2 separate regions of the Homo sapiens genome follow, and region 2 is linked to region 1. Evidence: fine-mapped expression QTL. A gene starts in region 1. The other region holds a variant in brackets. All regions are shown on one strand. Distances are from middle to middle.

Region 1 (8,329 bases):
TATACAACCAGATTTGATCATCATCACAGGTGGGCTTGGGGTTCATGGTCAAGGGCAGATGCCAGGAGTAAGAGATGGAAGGACAGAAGGAAGAAATGAAGGCAGCAGAGGAGAGAAGACCTGGGGAGGTTGGGGGCTACCCGAAATGTTAGGAAAACTCACCATGCTGTATGTCCTTCCATAGGACCCAGTATTTGGAATTATCTTCGAAAGTCACGAGGCAGCTTTGCTTAGAGCTGCTGACCTGGGGTACAGATAGGAAGGAGCAAGTGAGAAAGGGCTGGGGAAAAGCCAACCTGGAACATAGTCTTCCTCCCCCATTTTTGTCTCCGTATGTTCCAGAAAGCAGGGCTAGAAGGGGAAGAAGGATGGCAGTTCCTGGACAGGGTGTACTCCTAGTCACCTGGAGTCGTACAGCCAGGGACCGATGGATGGCAACTTGGTCAGAATGTTGAGGACAGAAGCACAAGTCAGATGCTCCTCTGTGATCCTCTCAAACCTGACTTTTTTGTTTTGTAGGCTCTCAGAGCACTTTTCTAAAGAACTAGTTGGATGATGTTGACCCTAGGGATGGTGCCTGCAAGACCAGGCTCTGGCCCCTCCCACCACCAGCTTTGGGCATGAGGGACAAGAAGGGAATTCTCCAGCAATCCCCCTGCCCCCTGGTCTGACAGCCAGGCTGGAACATGAGCAGAGAGATTCTGAGTCTGAGAACAGGGGCCAGAGAGGATGGGTTTACCCTCTTGATCTTCCCGAGGTAGTACAGGCCATCTGTCCACCGGCACAGCACATACTGGCCCTCCGTCAGTTTGGACATCAAGTCTTTGAAGTTGTTCTTGACCTTCGCCAGGGCCCCCTTGTTGGGGAGGTGGCTGGTGGCACCATAGGAGTCCCGAGTCCCTGGATCCAGAGCTCGATTCTCCATCAGCTTCCCCTGACACTGGGAGAGAAAGAACAGGGTTTTTGCTTCTTGCTTCCCTGCTTCAGAAAGCCCATCAGGGGAAGGAAGGAAACCACCATTTCTGTACCCTGTGCTATAAGCCAGACTTGGTTATTATCTCACTGATTCCTCGTGACCATCCTATGAGGGAGACATTATTATTATTCACATCTTACAGATAGGGAAACAGGTGTGGCAAGGAGAAGAGGCTGATGGGCCAAAGGCAGAGCCATGGCCCATACCACACTACCTTTTAAAGAGAATGGATCTCTCAACCCACACAGAACAAAGTCCCCTACCCAGCGGGCCTGAACCACTCCCTGTCTCAGGAGGCTGAGGTTTTATTCCTTAAGCAAACACAGTCCATGTGCTCTGGATGGAGGATCTTCTCCAGGCAAGCAGTTGGGTTTTGTTTTTACCCCCAACCCCTGCAACCATCCCTAACCTGAGATCTGTCCAGAGAAAATTCACCTAGAAAGGAAAACTGGGTGGCTTGTAGCTAGTGTAGACTGGGTCATCTGTCTTTTGTAATCCCCCCTTCTGTTCTCAATTATGAGATGATTTAATGGAAACCAATTCTGGGACATTTAAACCCACTTATGCTTTCACCCAGATACACATTTGCTCCAAGCAGTGAAGTCATCCATCCCCATGCCAGCCTCTCCACGCCTGTCTCTCACCATCCTATTCAACGTGCAGTTCACCCATCGATTTCTCTCTCCCTGCCTGTGGTACTGCCTTCATGCATCTCAAACTCCTCCAAGCAATTAGTTGCCACAGCCGGCCCATTTTAAGTGCCATGATTTCTGGCTTTCCAGCTCTAGCTTCCATCCTCCTGCCCTGGTCTCAGTTCAGGCCTCATCTTTTGCTTGGGCCATTCATTCATTCATTCATTCACCCAATAACAGTTTCCTGGGCCTTGTGCTTACCTCCACTAGGCACCTAGGGTGGGGAACGGTACTACCAGCACCCAGTGCTAAACAGGCCGTTCCTGCATTCCTGCCTCTCCACCAGACTCTTCCGCAGGGCCACCAATTTCCTTCCAGAAACTTTCTGGGGCTCCCCACTGCCCTCACTGGTGCTCAAAGCCGTCCCTAACGCCCCCTCCTTTCTGCTGGGCTCACCTGGCTCCAAGTCCCTCCACATGCTCTCCACTACAGCCACACACAGCCTCTCTCTTTCCCCGCGGGCCTACTCGGGTCTCCTCCTTGTGGCCATGGCGCTGGGCACCTGGTGTTGTGACTATCTGTTCACAGGGAGAGAGTCCAGTGCCTGTTTCTGTGTGGTGCGTGTGTGTACTCCTGTGAGACTGGGCAGGATGATGTCTACGGCATTGTGCCAGGGAGTGTGTGAAGCTAAGTATGTGCGGGGCCCTGGGGCGAGCCAGGCACTGCAGGGGTCTCGGCTCCCCAGATGGTGGCGTGGCCACGACCTTCTCCACCCCCACTCCCATCTCCTTTTTCTCCAGCGCAGAGCGCACAGGCTCCCGGGCAGGGGATGCGGTCTGAATCCCTGTCCTCTCCCTGCCACCTGGCTCGCCCGGCGCTGCGAGGTCCCCGCCCGCCCGGCCAGGGGCCAGGCCGGGGCCGCTGCAGGTTCACAAACTGACACTTCCTCTCCCGCTGCGCCTCTAGGAGCCGGCCGGGTCGCCGCACCCGCCTCCACCCTGGCCGGGCGGGGGCCCCCGGGTGGCGCCCCCCCAGCCCCCGCCTCCGTCCTCCCGGAGCGGGCCCCCGCGGGCTGTGATTGGCTGATTCAAACCCATTTGCAAAGAAATGCCTGTTTGCGGGTTCCCGTCTGCGTCCAGTTCAAATCCGCGGCACCGGGAGCGCGGGGCCGGGCGGGGGCAGGAAGCGAGGATGATTCATGCGCCGGGGCCTCTCCCAGGGCGGCCGTTGGCTTTTTAAAAAGGATGTTCAGGAGGGGGGAAAAAGCTTGCAGAAGCACCCCCTTCGGGTTCAGCGCTCCTCTCCTCAGTCGCTCGGACGCCAAGCCTCCCCCATCCCAACCCTGCCGCAGCCTGACTTCGGACGTGAGCGAAATGCCAAACGCCCGTCTGTCCTTCCCCCACCCCGATAGGAAAATTAAAGATCGGGGGCGAGGAAGAACGACCTGTCACCCATGCCCCCCGGGGCTCGGGAACCCGGGTGGGGCCCCTCTGCCCCGCAGGTAACCTGCACCCCCGGTCCCCACCCCCGAGAGCCCCGCTCCGCAGGAGTCTCACCCCCCGGAGGCGTTCGGGCCGCCAAAGTTCAGGGAGATTTCGAAAAGAGAGGGATGAGGGCCGGGAGGGGAGAGCGTGGCGGGGAGTCCGCCCAACAGCGCAGAACTCACCGCGAGGCTGCGTGTCCGCCGGTCCCACTTGGAGTCTGGCCACCAGGCGCATCGGTGGCGGAGGCGGCTGCGCTCGGCCCGCGGCTGCCCGGCCGAGTGTCCGCCCGTGGGGCCGGGGTCGGGGTCTCGGCGGGGGCGGGGCGGGGCGGGGGCGCCGCGGGGAGGAGGGGGAGGCGGCGGAGGGAGGGGCCGGGGCGCTCAGGAAGGGGCCCCCCGGGCGCGGGGCGCCATCTTTTTCGCGTTTTCCCGCGAATTATTGACGTCCCGCTTATGTAATTAGCGGGGGCCGCGCCGGCCTCGCCATTGGAGCCCGCGGCCGCCGGGCTCCGCAGCGCCGCCAGCCCCCGCCCGCCCCCGCCCGCCCCGCGGGCGCGCATCCTCCGCGGCCACTAGCCAGGACCCGGGCCCCCCGCCGAGGAGCGGCCACACCGCGGCGCACACGGAGACGCCAGGCAGCGCTCATGGCGCACACGACCGCTCGCACACTTGTTGAGGAAACACAGCTCTGCGCGCAGGCACCGGCGGACCCTGGCACAGACACACAGCAGGGCGGCGCGGACCCTTGGCGCAGACACAGACCCAGGACGCCCAAACAGGCCACACAACACCTTGCACTAACAGCACAGGCGTTCGGCACAGAGACACAGCACAAGTATAATGTAGATACACAACACACAGTGCACAACGCATGTTGTTCCGACACAGGTCAGAACACACCACAGCATGTACAGGACACAAACACACCACAAAGAGAAGTACTGTACACACCAGCCATAGGCATAGATACACAAGGGGGAACACACTGTACACAACAGAGACACACAACAGAACATGCATGTAAGGTAGACGGACATAACACATAAAGTCACAACACAGACGGGCAAGAGACACAAGTTTTCCTGAAAAAGTGGCATTCAGATAGGTTGTGGAAATAGGTTAGTGGGTGTGCCAGGTGGAGGGAATTCAGTGGGCTAACAATGCAATTTTTAAAATACGGGTTAAGGATATCAAAAGGCAATTCACAAAAGAGGAAACCTACATGGCCGAAATAGCCCCAAACAACAAATTGCGTAGAGACACAGTGCACAGAAATACATGGTACAATCGCAAATATATACCACACGCACAACATGTCATGTAAATAAAGGGCACACAATGAAAGACAACATGCACAGAGTCATAGGAATGGCAGATGGAGTCAGTGGGCAGAGCTCCAATCATAGGGACCCTGCCCTGTGGGGGAAAGGCAGACATGGCCCCACCCAGACTCACTCTTGGGGGAAGGGAGGAAGAACACTTACCAATAACCCCACCCCCATCCTTGCCCTCAGTCCACAGCGCCCACCTCTGTGGCTACCATCCCACTCTGCAGACACCCCCACCAGACAGGGATATGTGCTTTCATGGGTGTGGCCAGTGGACAGCACCTTCCCCCAGAGCCTTCCCTGTTCACTGTCAGTTGCTCACTCTGGGCCCTCTGCCTCCTGGCCTTGGAGCATGATCTGTGCAGCCCCCCACCTCACCTTCTCAGCAGAGATCCAGGAGTCCTTTCACCTCCTTCCTCACTTCCTTCTGCCCCTTGATCCCCCTGCTCTCACCTGCCTCACTGCCCCATTCTGGATCCTGGCGCCTCAGCAGAACCTAGCACTGCTGAGTACCTGCCTGAACCTGGAAGGAAAGCCTGGGAGCAGCCCCATGGCACAAAATCTCCCAATCCTGGAGAGCACATTTTCAAGTCCCAAAGGGGCCCTAGGATTGTGCTACTTAACCATGTTCTGCCAAGAGAAGGTGTGTCCAACGCGGGTAGGGCTGATGATGGGAGCAGAACACTCCCACTAGCTTCTAAGCTGGCTGGGTCTGCCTTCAGGATGCTGGGGGACAGAGATGATAGAGCGAAGTGCTCACCTCTGAGGCTACAGGCCAGCTCCACCCATTACTGGCCATGGGAGCCTGAGTGTGTCACTTCTTTCTTTCTTTTTTTTTTAAACAATTCTTGCTCCAGAGACTTTAAGTCTTAAGCCTCCGTGTCCTCACCTAAATAGAGTTATTGGGAAGGTTAGAGTTAATGTATGCAAAGCCCCTGGTGCCCAGTAGGTGTGCAGTAAGTGATCATTGTATTAATACTTTGTTAAGAAATTCTGTATTCAGAATCTTGATTGCCCCACTGTGTGGGACTAGAGCGGGGGGATGTGAGACACACAGGTGGATGGGAGACACACAGGTGGATGAGAGACAAGGAACTGGCAACCTCGTGGAGGAGGCGGTGTTGATGCATAGATAAATAAGAGGGGATTGTGCTGTGAGCTGCACGTGGAATTGAATTGTCCTGGCTTCAAGTCCAGCTCTGCCTCTGAGCCAGGGCGGGGTCTTGGGTTAGCTAGACCCTCCTACACCATGTTTCTTTATCGGTTGAAAAGAGGGTAATAATACTACCCATCTCGTGGGGCTGTTGCATAAATGTTCAAATAAGACAATGAAGGAGCAGGTGCTTTTGTAAACTAAAAAGTTTGATATGCAAAATAAGAAGTTAAAACACTACAGAACAGGAAATTATAAATGCCACAAGAAAGGTACGGTGTCACCAGTGATTATTTAGAGGCAACTCTAAATTCGAATTGAGGAAAGAGAACAAGTTTCCCGGAAAAAGTAGCAATCAGTTAGGTTGTGGAAATAGGGAGGTGGGTGTGCCAGGTGGAGGGAGTTTAATGGGCTGACCAACAATCCAATTTTTTAAATATGGATTAAGGATATCAACAGGCAACTCACAAAAGAGGAAACCTAAATGGCTAAAATAGCCTAAAATGTGAAAAGGTGCTCAACCTTATTGGCCACGTGAGAGACGCAAATGAAGAGAACTGTGATACACCATTACACATCCACCAGATGGGCACGGAGTCGAGTCTGTCAATATAGGGGGGTGGGGGGTGAGGATGTCGCACAGTTGGGACCCTCAAATACCTATGGAGATATGAACTGGTAAAACGATTTTGGAGAACAGTTTGGCAACTTGTAAGAAAGTGGAAGATACTCATAGCTACAATTCAATGACTCCACTCGTCATTCAGCGCATAATTGTGAAAATTTAGAAATTAATGAATTATCCATGAACAGCAGTCCAGATAGGCCAGGCACTGTGGCTCATGCCTGTAATCCCAGCACTTTGGGAGGCCAAGGCAGGTGGATCACTTGAGGTCAGGAGTTTGAGACCAGCCTGATCAATATGGTGAAATCCCGTCTCTACTAAAAATACAAAAATTAGCCGGGCATGGTGGCGTGTGCCTGTAGTCCCAGCTACTTGGGAGGCTGAGACAGGAGAATTGTTTGAACCTGGGAGGTGGAGGTTGCATTGAGCGAAATCGTGCCACTGCACTCCAGCCTGAGTGACTGAGCGAGACTCCGTCTCAACAAACAAACAGCAGACCAGATAGATTAATTGTGATGTAGTCATACAATGGAATAATATACTGGGAGTAAAAATAAACTAAGTCTGCAGCCTCAACATAGTTACACCCTAGGAAAAAAACTAACATCAAGTTGTAGCATAGGTACAGTGTGACACAAATGATAAAAAATGTTTCTTAACGCATTCAGCTGGGCCCGTGGCTCAAGTCTGTATTCCAGCGCTTTGGGAGGCTATGGTGGGAAGATCGCTTGAGCCCAGGAGTTCAAGACCAGCCTGGGCAACATGGCGAAACCCTATCTCTACTAAAAATACAAAAATTAGCTGGGCATGATGGCATGCACCTGTAGTCCCAGCTACTTGGGAGACTGAGGTGGGAAGATTGATTGAGCCCAGGAGTTTGAGGCCACAGTAAGCCATGATTGTGCCACTGCACTCCAGCCTGGGTGACAGAGAGAGACTTTCTCAAAAACAAACAAACAAACAACAAAAAACCCAAAGAAATACAAAATAAGCTATGTAGACATTTTGGGGCTACAGTCAGCTAGTAAAAGTATTGAAACATGCATGGGAAATCAAAGACCCTAGATTTAGAATAGGGTAACCTTTGGGAAGGGAGGGACAGGAATGAGATCAGAAGGAAGCACATCGGGGGTTTGTTTTTTTTTTTTTTTTTTGAGAGAGTCTCGCTCTGTTGCCCAGGCTGGAGTGCAGTGGCGCGATCTCGGCTCACTGCAACCTCCGCCTCCCGGGTTCACGCCCTTCTCCTGCCTCAGCCTCCCGAGTAGCTGGGACTACAGGCACCCACCACCACGCCCCGCTGATTTTTTATATTTTTAGTAGAGACGGGCTTTCACCGTGTTAGCCAAGATGGTCTTGATCTCCTGACCTCGTGATCCGCCCACTTCTGCCTCCCAAAGTGCTGGGATTACAGGCGTGAGTCACCGTGCCTGGCCCACAGGGGGTTTAATTCTATCTGTATGTTTTATTTCTTAGAAAAAAAAATTAAAATCTGAGGCAAGTATGACCAAGTGTCAAGATGTAACAGAGCTGGGTGGTTGATCCATAGTTGTTCTCTCTGATCCTTCTCCTTCTCAAGTCTAAAACTTTTCCATGTTTGAGATATTTGGTGATTTTAAAGGTGGGAGGGGCAGGAAGCTATGAGGAGATTGCAGCAGAGGAGGTTTTGATGATAGCATTGCTTGTTAGGTGTCCAGGGTGGTTACAGTGCACAGTGTCCCCTCATGCATGGGACTGATCACCCTTCTTATTTGTTTGTTTGTTTATTTGAGATGAAGTCTTGCTCTGTTGCCTAGGCCAGAGTGCAGTGGCACGATCTCGGCTCACTGCAAACTCTGCCTCCCAGGTTCAAGCAATTCTCCTGCCTCAGCCTCCTGGGTAGCCGGGGTTCCAGGTGCACGCTATCACGCCTGGCTAATTTTTGTATTTTTAGTAGAGATTGGGTTTCACCATGTTGGTCAGGCTGGTCTTGAACTCCTGACTTCATGATCCACCAGCCTTGGCCTTCCAAAGTGTTGGGATTACAGGTGCGTGCCACTGCACCTGGCCCACCCTTCTCTTTTAAGGCTTGTCACAGCGTGGTGAGCCAGGTGTGGCAGGCATCAGGTCCATTTTGCAGGGGATGAAATGGAGGT
Region 2 (8,329 bases), 70 kb after region 1:
TATTTTTAGTAGAGACGTGGTTTCACCGAGTTAGCAAGAATGGACTCGATCTCCTGACCTCGTGATCCACCTGCCTCGGCCTCCCAAAGTGCTGGGATTACAGGCGTGAGCCACCACGCCAGGCCTGGATATCTTATTAAAATATAGATCTCCGAGCTCTGCTCCCAAGATTTTCTGTTTCAGTAGGTCTGGGGTGGGGTCTGGGAATTTGCATTCCTGACAAACTCCCAGGCGGCCAGGGACCACACTTTGTATAGCATTGTTCTAAGGCTGACAGTCCTGAGGACCAAAAGAGGAAGGCAAATGGGAAAATTCGAGGCACTGGAGGAGGTTGTTTTTTAAGATAGTGGTCTTTTCCCAATTTTTAAAAAAGCACACCAGGCAGTCTCTGTCTATGGTATCTTAGCACAAAGATGCTTTTTGTTTTTAATGCTATGTTTATATTTGTGCAAGATTCTACATTTTAAAATTTCTCTCACTTGTTGGATCTTATTTCATCCTTGCAACAAATCTGTAAATTGGGTTGGGGGAAATTCTTTCATTATTTTTAAAAGATAGAACTGAGGCCTAGAGAGTTAAGACAGCTGGAAATCACACTCCAGCTGACTGCCACAGATTGTGGGCTCCTGAGTTGGCACTAAGGTGTTTTTCCTAATCATTATAACCCATTAGGGCTGATAATGTTACTTCCGCTTTCTAGATGGGCAAATTGAGACTTGATGAGGTTCAGGAACTCTCCCAAGGCCACAAGTCAGGGCAGCTCCTCTGTTTCATGGTTCAATGTCTTACTTCTTCACTGTATCACTTCCCCATACTAACTCCTCCTTTCTCTCTCTGTCTGTCAGTCACACACACACAACATAGCCAAATCAGTGAGCCATTTTAATTTCGACACCCAGCATTTATTTAATGAACAGACCACAGTTTGGCCTTTCGCCTTTAGAGGTGAAAGGAGGAGGCAAGAAGAGGATGAATGACGACCAGCCTTGCCCCAAGGCCCTAACAGACTCAGGAAACCTTTCTGCCTTCTCCTCCAACTCTAAGCATATCTCCTTTCCCTTCCTCTTCCTTTGCCCTCAGAGAATTACAGTCTAGTCCTGGCTCTAATTTCCTAAAGGTTCTTTATTTGGAAAATATATTATTAAGCCAAACAATCCTTTCCTTAACTCCAATTTCTCTTGTCTCATTCAGTTTCAACCCCCCTCCCACCGACCACCCTTCCAACACCAACACACACACACACACACACACACACACCCCTCCAGCCTAACAACAACAACACCAAAACCCTCTGATTGCTCCCAACTCATCTGTTAGACATGTTAGCCCTGGCCCTCACCACCAGGCTCGGGTCTCTGCTTGCCCCTGCAGGCAATGTTTCTATTAGGCCCTGAGGAGACACCAGGCTGCATATAGGAAGGCAGAGGAGCCTGGTGCTGCGGGTTCTAGCCCCAGCTCTGTTGTGGAACCCTCTTGGTGAGTCCTGGCTCCTCCCTGGGCCTGCTTCCTGGTCTGTGAAATGGGGAGGCATTGATGAGATGATCTCTAGAGGATCTTTAAATGTCAATATTTTATGAATCTAAGTAGGATGTTCACAGGTAAAAAATTATTGAATTTACCACCTCTAGTGTGCCAGAGAGGTATTATTACCCAGCCACAAGTTACTTTTATTGTGCCAGGCACTGTGCTAATCATTTTATGTGCATTATCTGTATTATCTCATTTGAGCCTTGCAGAAATCCTCTGACTTGGGTATTATTAGTACTTCTGTTTTTCAGATGTGAAAACTTCACCTTTTTATTAAAGCAGTCAAGTAGATGTTTTCTTGACTATTAAAAGTCTCTCAGCACTGAAGGGACATTAAGCCCCCTACCTTGAATTGCCCAGAAACATCCCTGGAAGGTGGCAGCTAGACTCTGCTCAGATGGCCCCAGCAATAAGGAACTTGGACCTGACTCTACTTTTGAATGGCTATGGCTATAAGAAAATGCTTCTTCACAGGGAGCCAAAACTGGTGTCTCTGTAACTCCTGCTCATCTCAGTGGTGGGAAGAATGCGGTGTTCAGAGGCCTCACTTGGGCTTCTGTCCTGGCCTTTCCATTTATCAGCACCATAATCCTAGACAAGCTGCTCCTCTGGACCTCCATGTTCACAGGCAAAAAATGAAGGAATCGGATGAGATGAGCTCTAGGTCCTTTCTGGTGTGGGCATTTTAGATTTGTATAATTCATGACTGTGCATGTAACATACACATATCTGACTATAATGATGGAAACAGAGAAGGAGTGGAATTTTGGTGGCGGGGGGCCTCTGTCAGGTATGAGGCTGTGAGCATGGTGTGTGTATGTGCATGTTTCTGGGACAGGGGTCTGTGAAAGAGAAGAGTGGCCCTGGACAACTGGCGTGAGGCCTCGGTGTCCCTGGGAGCCAGTCTGGTGCCCAGAGCCAGGCTGGGGTGTTCTCTGTGTCTGATGTCATAGAACATCAACATCAGACAAAATGGATCCATACTAAAAACGACTACTCTATAATCATGTTTGAGCAGGATATAAAAACAAGAACATTGTCCAAACCACAAAAATGACCACACACACCCTTTTCCTGGCTAAAGTGAGTAAGTGCTGCTACTTTTCCTCCCAGCTAGAAAAGAAATAAGATACTGGGTCATAGGATTGCCCCTGCTTCCTGAAAGCATCCAATCCAGAGTAAAGTTCCATTTCTTTGAGGCTCCTCCCAAATACTCTATCACAAGTACAAATCCTATAATAAGGCTTTTCTAATGCACTCTCACCGAGAAGCCTTATGGTCCCCATGGTGTGTGTTCTCCCTTGTTGCAAAGACTCAATAAACTGAAACTTGTTCAGTTCCAGGTATTCCTGGTTGTCTTGATTGGAGGGAATTGATAAGTCTATAGCTTTCATTAGATTCTGAAAAGGATGTGTATGTGGCTGGAGAAAATCCCACAACCCATGCTGATCAGTCCCACTTTAAATTCATGACTAGAAACTTCAAGTGGACCCTTAATACGAAGAAGCAAATATATTACAAGTCCTTAGTTGGTTCAGCCTCCCTCTCTTTTAGATAACTGTCTCACCCTTCTTTCCTCCCGTCACACCTCCAATTGCTCCTCCCTATCCTCCATCTCAGGTGATGATCTTCATCCTACTTCTCTGAGAAAGGGACTTCCACAGACTCTCACCACATCTACCCCTTGCCAGCGTCTGCTGCATGTGCTCAGCTTCTCTGCCTACAACCATGGGTCATGGATCAGGGATCGGTATGCTGCTGCCCAAGGGCTAAATCCAGCCTGCCTAGTCCATGCCCATTCTTTTCTGCATTATCTATGGCTGCATTTGTGCTACAATGAGAGAGTTGAGCAGTTGCAATAGAGACTTATGAGAATTATGGCCCACAAAGCCTAAAATATTACAGTTATTTTAATGCATGGCTCTTTACAGAAGTTTGCTGACCCCTGGCATAGGTGAGCTAGTCATGTTCTTATTTAAAGCCAAGTCCTCCACTTGTGCTCCAGATCCTATCCACTCTTACCTCTTCAAGGACATTACTCTAGTAGTTCTCCTTTCTCTCTCCTGCATCGTCAATTATTTACTCTTTACTGAGTCATTCCCTTTAGAACACAAATGTGTTATTTCTTCCGTCTTAAACTTTCCTTCACTCTACTCCCCTCAATCCATTTCTTTGCTCCTTGAATGAGTTGTCCATACTCCCTGTCTCCAAATCCTCTCCTCCTATCTACTCTTAAATCACTCTATTCAGGCTATTCTTCCCACTACTCCACCCAACCTGCCCTGTCAAAGTCACCAATGCTAAACCCAACAGCCAAGTCTTCATCTTACTTCTCTCTGAAGCATTTGATACAGTTCAACACTCTTCCTCCCAGAACCTCTTTCTTTTGTTTGGCTTGAGGGGACCTCATCTCTTGTTTTTTCTCCTAATTCAATGGATCCTCTATCTCTTTTCTCTAATAACTTCATCTTGGAATGCTCAAAA[T/G]GTCTATCCTTGGTCTTCTTTTTTTCCACTCCTCTGTCTGTATTCACATCCTTAGTGATCTTAACTAGTCTAATGGTTTTAGTATGCTGATGATTCTCAGATTTATGTTTTTCAGCCCAGAGCTCTCTCCTGAACTAGATAACTATATGACCAATTGCCTTCCAGGCTCCTTCACTTGGATGTTTAATAGATTTCTTCTAAAATTCAACACATCCAAAACTGAACAGATTCCTAACTCCCCACAACCTGCTCCATCTGCAGCCTTCCTAATCTCAGGCAACTCCATCTTTCCAGTTGTTCAGGCCAAAAGTCTTGGCATCATCCTTGACTCCTTTCTTTCTCTCACACTTATTTCCACTCTATCAGGGAATTCAGTTAAACCTACAATATTAGTCCCTTCAATTAAGCCTACTGTATTAGTCCCTTTTGTATTGCTATAAAGGAATACCTGAGGCTGCATAATTTATAAAGAAAAGAGATTTGTTTGGCGCACGGTTCTGCAGGCTATACGGGAAGCATGGTGCCAGCATCTGCTTCTGGTGAGGCCTCAGGAAGCTTACAGTCATGGTAGAAGGGAAAAAAGAGCCTAAGTGGCACATGGTGAGAGAGGAAGCAACCAGCTAGAAGGAGGTGCCAGGCTCTTTATAAACAATCAGATCTCGTGGTAACTCACAGAGTAAGAACTCTCATTACCATGGGGAGGGCACCAAGCCATTCACGAGGGATCCACTCCCATGGCCCAAACATCTTCCACCTCGCCTCACTTCCAACACTGGGGATCACATTTCAACATGTGATTTTGGGGGACAAATATCCAAACTGTATCATTTACTTTTAAAGTATATCCAGAATTCAACCACTTTTCAATACCTCCACTGCTACCACTCTGGTCTGAGGCACCATCATCCCTCACCTAGTTTATTACAGTAGCCTCCTATCCGTTCTCTTTACCCTTGCCTTATTTTCAACAGCAGTTACAGTAGTCCTTTAAAAAGGCAAGACAGACCATGTCACTCTTCTTTTCAAAGCCTTGCAATGGCTCCTGTTTCCTTCCAAGTAAAGCCAAAGCCTCTTCCATTGGCTTCATAATCTGCACCTGCCACCCCTGCTTCCTTGCTTTTCCTGTGACACACCAGCATGCTCCTGCCTTAGGCCGGACACTATGTACCAAGAGTGCCAGGAACACTCTCCCCTTGGCTAGCTATGTGGCTCACTCTTTCACATCCTTCAAGTCTTTGCTCAAATTTCACCTTCTCATTGAAGCCCACCCTGACCTGGCCACCCTATTTAGAACTGCAACCCCTCCCCTGACCATTACCAGTCTCCTTTAGTCTGCTTTTTCTTTTTCCCATTGCTCTTATCACTTTCTGAGATCCAAGACTAATTGCTTAATTATTCTCTTTATTTTTTATTACATATCTCTCCCAGTTGGAATCTATGTTCCACAATGGCAGGGATCTTGGTACCAAGCACCTAGAATTGGGCCTAGCCTGCAGTCACCAATCAATACATGTTTGTTGGGTGTTGCTGAATACATCAGCATCATAGGGTCTGGAAAGAAAGACTAAACATGACTTTGGTCCAGAATTTCTCACTGAGAAATATGGAGCAAGGCTGCTTGCCTCAACCTTGGCTCACAGACCTCCACGTGTTTTCTTAAGACAGAGTATCTTAAACGTCAATCATTTGCATGCCAACTGCATGATTTTTGCCCTAAGAATAAACTTACTTTTATTTACTCAATACTTTTTCTTAAATAGACTTACTTCTTGGAAAATAGATTTATTTTGGAAGAAAATGTTACATCATGGCTTTGATGTGCTAATTACTTTTTTAAAATACATGTTAAAATAAACATATAGCCACTAAAGTGAACAATGTGCATCGTATCACCTAAGAACATCTTGCTTACCCCTGGGGAAACCTGCCTTAAGCGTTGCCCCTTAACCAGAAAGGCCTTCCCTGTACCTCCCACCTACCCAAATCCCAGTGTCCTTCTACAGAAAGCCTTGGCAGCTCTTCCAGCTTACTTCTCTGCACTGTCTCCATACTTACAGACAAAATATGTAAGCCCAGGCCGGCCATAGTGGCTCACGCCTGTAATCCCGGCACTTTGGGAGGCCAAGGGAGGTAGATCACCTGAGGTCAGGCGTTCGAGACCAGCCTGACCAACATGGCGAAAACCTATCTGTACTAAATACAAAAAATTAGCTGGGTGTGGTGGCACATGTCTGTAATCCTAGCTACTTGGAAGGCTGAGGCAGGAGAATTGCTTGAACCCGGGAGGCGGAGGTTGCAGTGAGCCGAGATTGCGCCATTGCACTCCAGCCTGGGCAACAAGAGCAAAACTGTGTCTCAAAAAAAAAAAAAAAAAAAAAAGAGAGAAAGAAAGAATGAAATACATAAGCCCAATATTTGGATGCTTATATGCCGTTTGGTTTTTCCTGTTTCACATCATAAGATTATAGAACATCTTCTTAGCTATAGATAAAAGAGACATTAGAGTGTCCAATTCCCTTATTTTATAGGCTATCAAAGAGATTAAGAGGCTTGTCCCAAATCACTGCCAATTAGGGCCAAAGCCAAGACTAGAACTTGGGTCTTCTGATTCTCTACACTGTAGGGGAATCCACAAACACTTATTGAGTCCCTATGATGTGCCCGACATTGTGCCAACTACAGGAGATACTGGCGAATAGAACAGACTCAGACCTTACCTAAGTGGAGCTTTCAGTGTGGTCACGCTAAACTAATAATTCAATCTGATTAAGTAAATCATTGCAAGAGCACAAGTGCCTTGGAGGAGAAGTGCAGGGTTGGGTAATGGGCCCAGCCTGGTTTGGAGGGTCACAAAAGCCTCACTGAGAAAATATGTTCAAATGCATAGGAGTTAGCTGAAGAGGAGCTGGCAGATATTTTAAATGGTGCCAGGCTAATTCACAAAACCTTCTTTGATATTTGACAGCTGCATTGTGGGTTAATTAGGCCACTGTGGCCTGCCCTATTTGCCAAAGTGCTCAGGAAAAGGCAGTCAGACTCCTGTGCCTTCGAAGCAGCACCAGTGGTTCCCTCCTCCCAGCAAGGAAGTGACAGGAGACACCGAGAGGCCTGCTCTGGAGAAGGTCTCCTCACCCCTCGCTGACAGGGAGTGTGGGCATCTTGAACATGACACATTGGTTGTTTTTGCCAAGGGAGTGCCTACAATGTGAGCTTTGACATTAGAGAAAAATAAGTCCTTAGTCCCTGGAAGTGGAAAATCTTAGTGTTATTTACAAAGGCACACTACAAGGCCTTGTGTAGCTTCACCTAACTAGTAAAAAGCAGACTCTTCAAAAGGAGATGCATTCCAGTCTCTGTTAATTACCGTTACATCCGGAGGTCATCTTCATGTTTCCTGTGATAGTTCAGTGGGGCTGGTTAATCTGTGTCTAAGAAACTTCTACTATATCCTGCCTTACTGTTAGAAAATTCAACCCAACAAGCAATATGTAGTGATGTGGAACAGAGATGTATTTAAACTGAGATAGAGTCTTGGGGTTTGATTTCCAATTCTTTTCCTTACTAGGTTGGGAAAACTGCTTTACTTTTCTGAACCTCAATTTTCTTTTCTTTTTCTTTTTTCTTTTTTGAGATGGAGTCTCACTCTGTCACCTAGGCTGGAATGCAGTGGCATGATCTCGGCTCACTGCAACGTCCACTTCCTGGGTTCAAGTGATCCTCCTGCCTCAGCCTACTGAGTACCTGGGATTACAGGCTTGCTAAATTAGCCTGGCTAATTTTTATATTTTTAGTAGAGATGGGGTTTCACTATGTTGGCCAGGCTGGTCTCGAACTCCTGACCTCAAGTGATCTGCCCGCCTTGGCCTCCCAAAGTGCTGGGATTACAGGCTTGAGCCACCATGCCAGGCCTAAATCTCAATTTTCTTATCTGTAAGATGGGGATGATAATGATAATAATTTCTGAATCTTGTGAGAGGCTTGAGACATTAAATGAGAATATATGCGAGAGCTTTTTAATATGATCTGAAGTGCTGCAAAATGTCACTTAAAAATTAACTTCTGTTATGTATCCTCTTTTATAAAGCTCAAATTGAGGCTCAGAGAGAGACCTGGTTAGGGCTGGAGAAAGGTCTCCCGATCCGCCACTCAGTTTCTTTTCACCAGGTTGCTGCACTGGGGCCTGTCTTTTAGTAAAGCAATTGTTGGCGAGAGCAGGTTCCTGGGGGAAATGAACATGTGCCGGAAGGGAGGGAAAGAGAGTAGAGGGTCTCCCTTCAGGGGTATGGAGAGGGCAATGGACGGGGAGGGGGCAGGGACA

What was found.
Region 2: its variant is fine-mapped to the expression of PHF19 in whole blood (TOPMed, PIP above 0.99).

What each region holds. Positions count from the first base shown.
Region 1 is chr9:120,873,817-120,882,145 of GRCh38, forward strand. It overlaps PHF19 (PHD finger protein 19), which reads right to left and starts at 3,372. Exons shown (of 15, transcript NM_015651.3): 1 at 3,275-3,372; 2 at 740-940; 3 at 163-244. The coding sequence starts at 925. RefSeq lists enhancers at 1-398, 2,209-2,800, 3,812-3,861, 4,122-4,171 and silencers at 2,392-2,841, 3,122-3,171, 3,412-3,691.
Region 2 is chr9:120,943,852-120,952,180 of GRCh38, forward strand. All of the region lies in intron 1 of C5-OT1 (C5 3' UTR overlapping transcript 1), which reads right to left. Among named protein-coding and RNA genes, the nearest start is that of C5-OT1, 4.8 kb to the right of the region's middle. RefSeq lists an enhancer at 995-1,044. The variant T/G (reference allele first, on the strand shown) is at 4,012.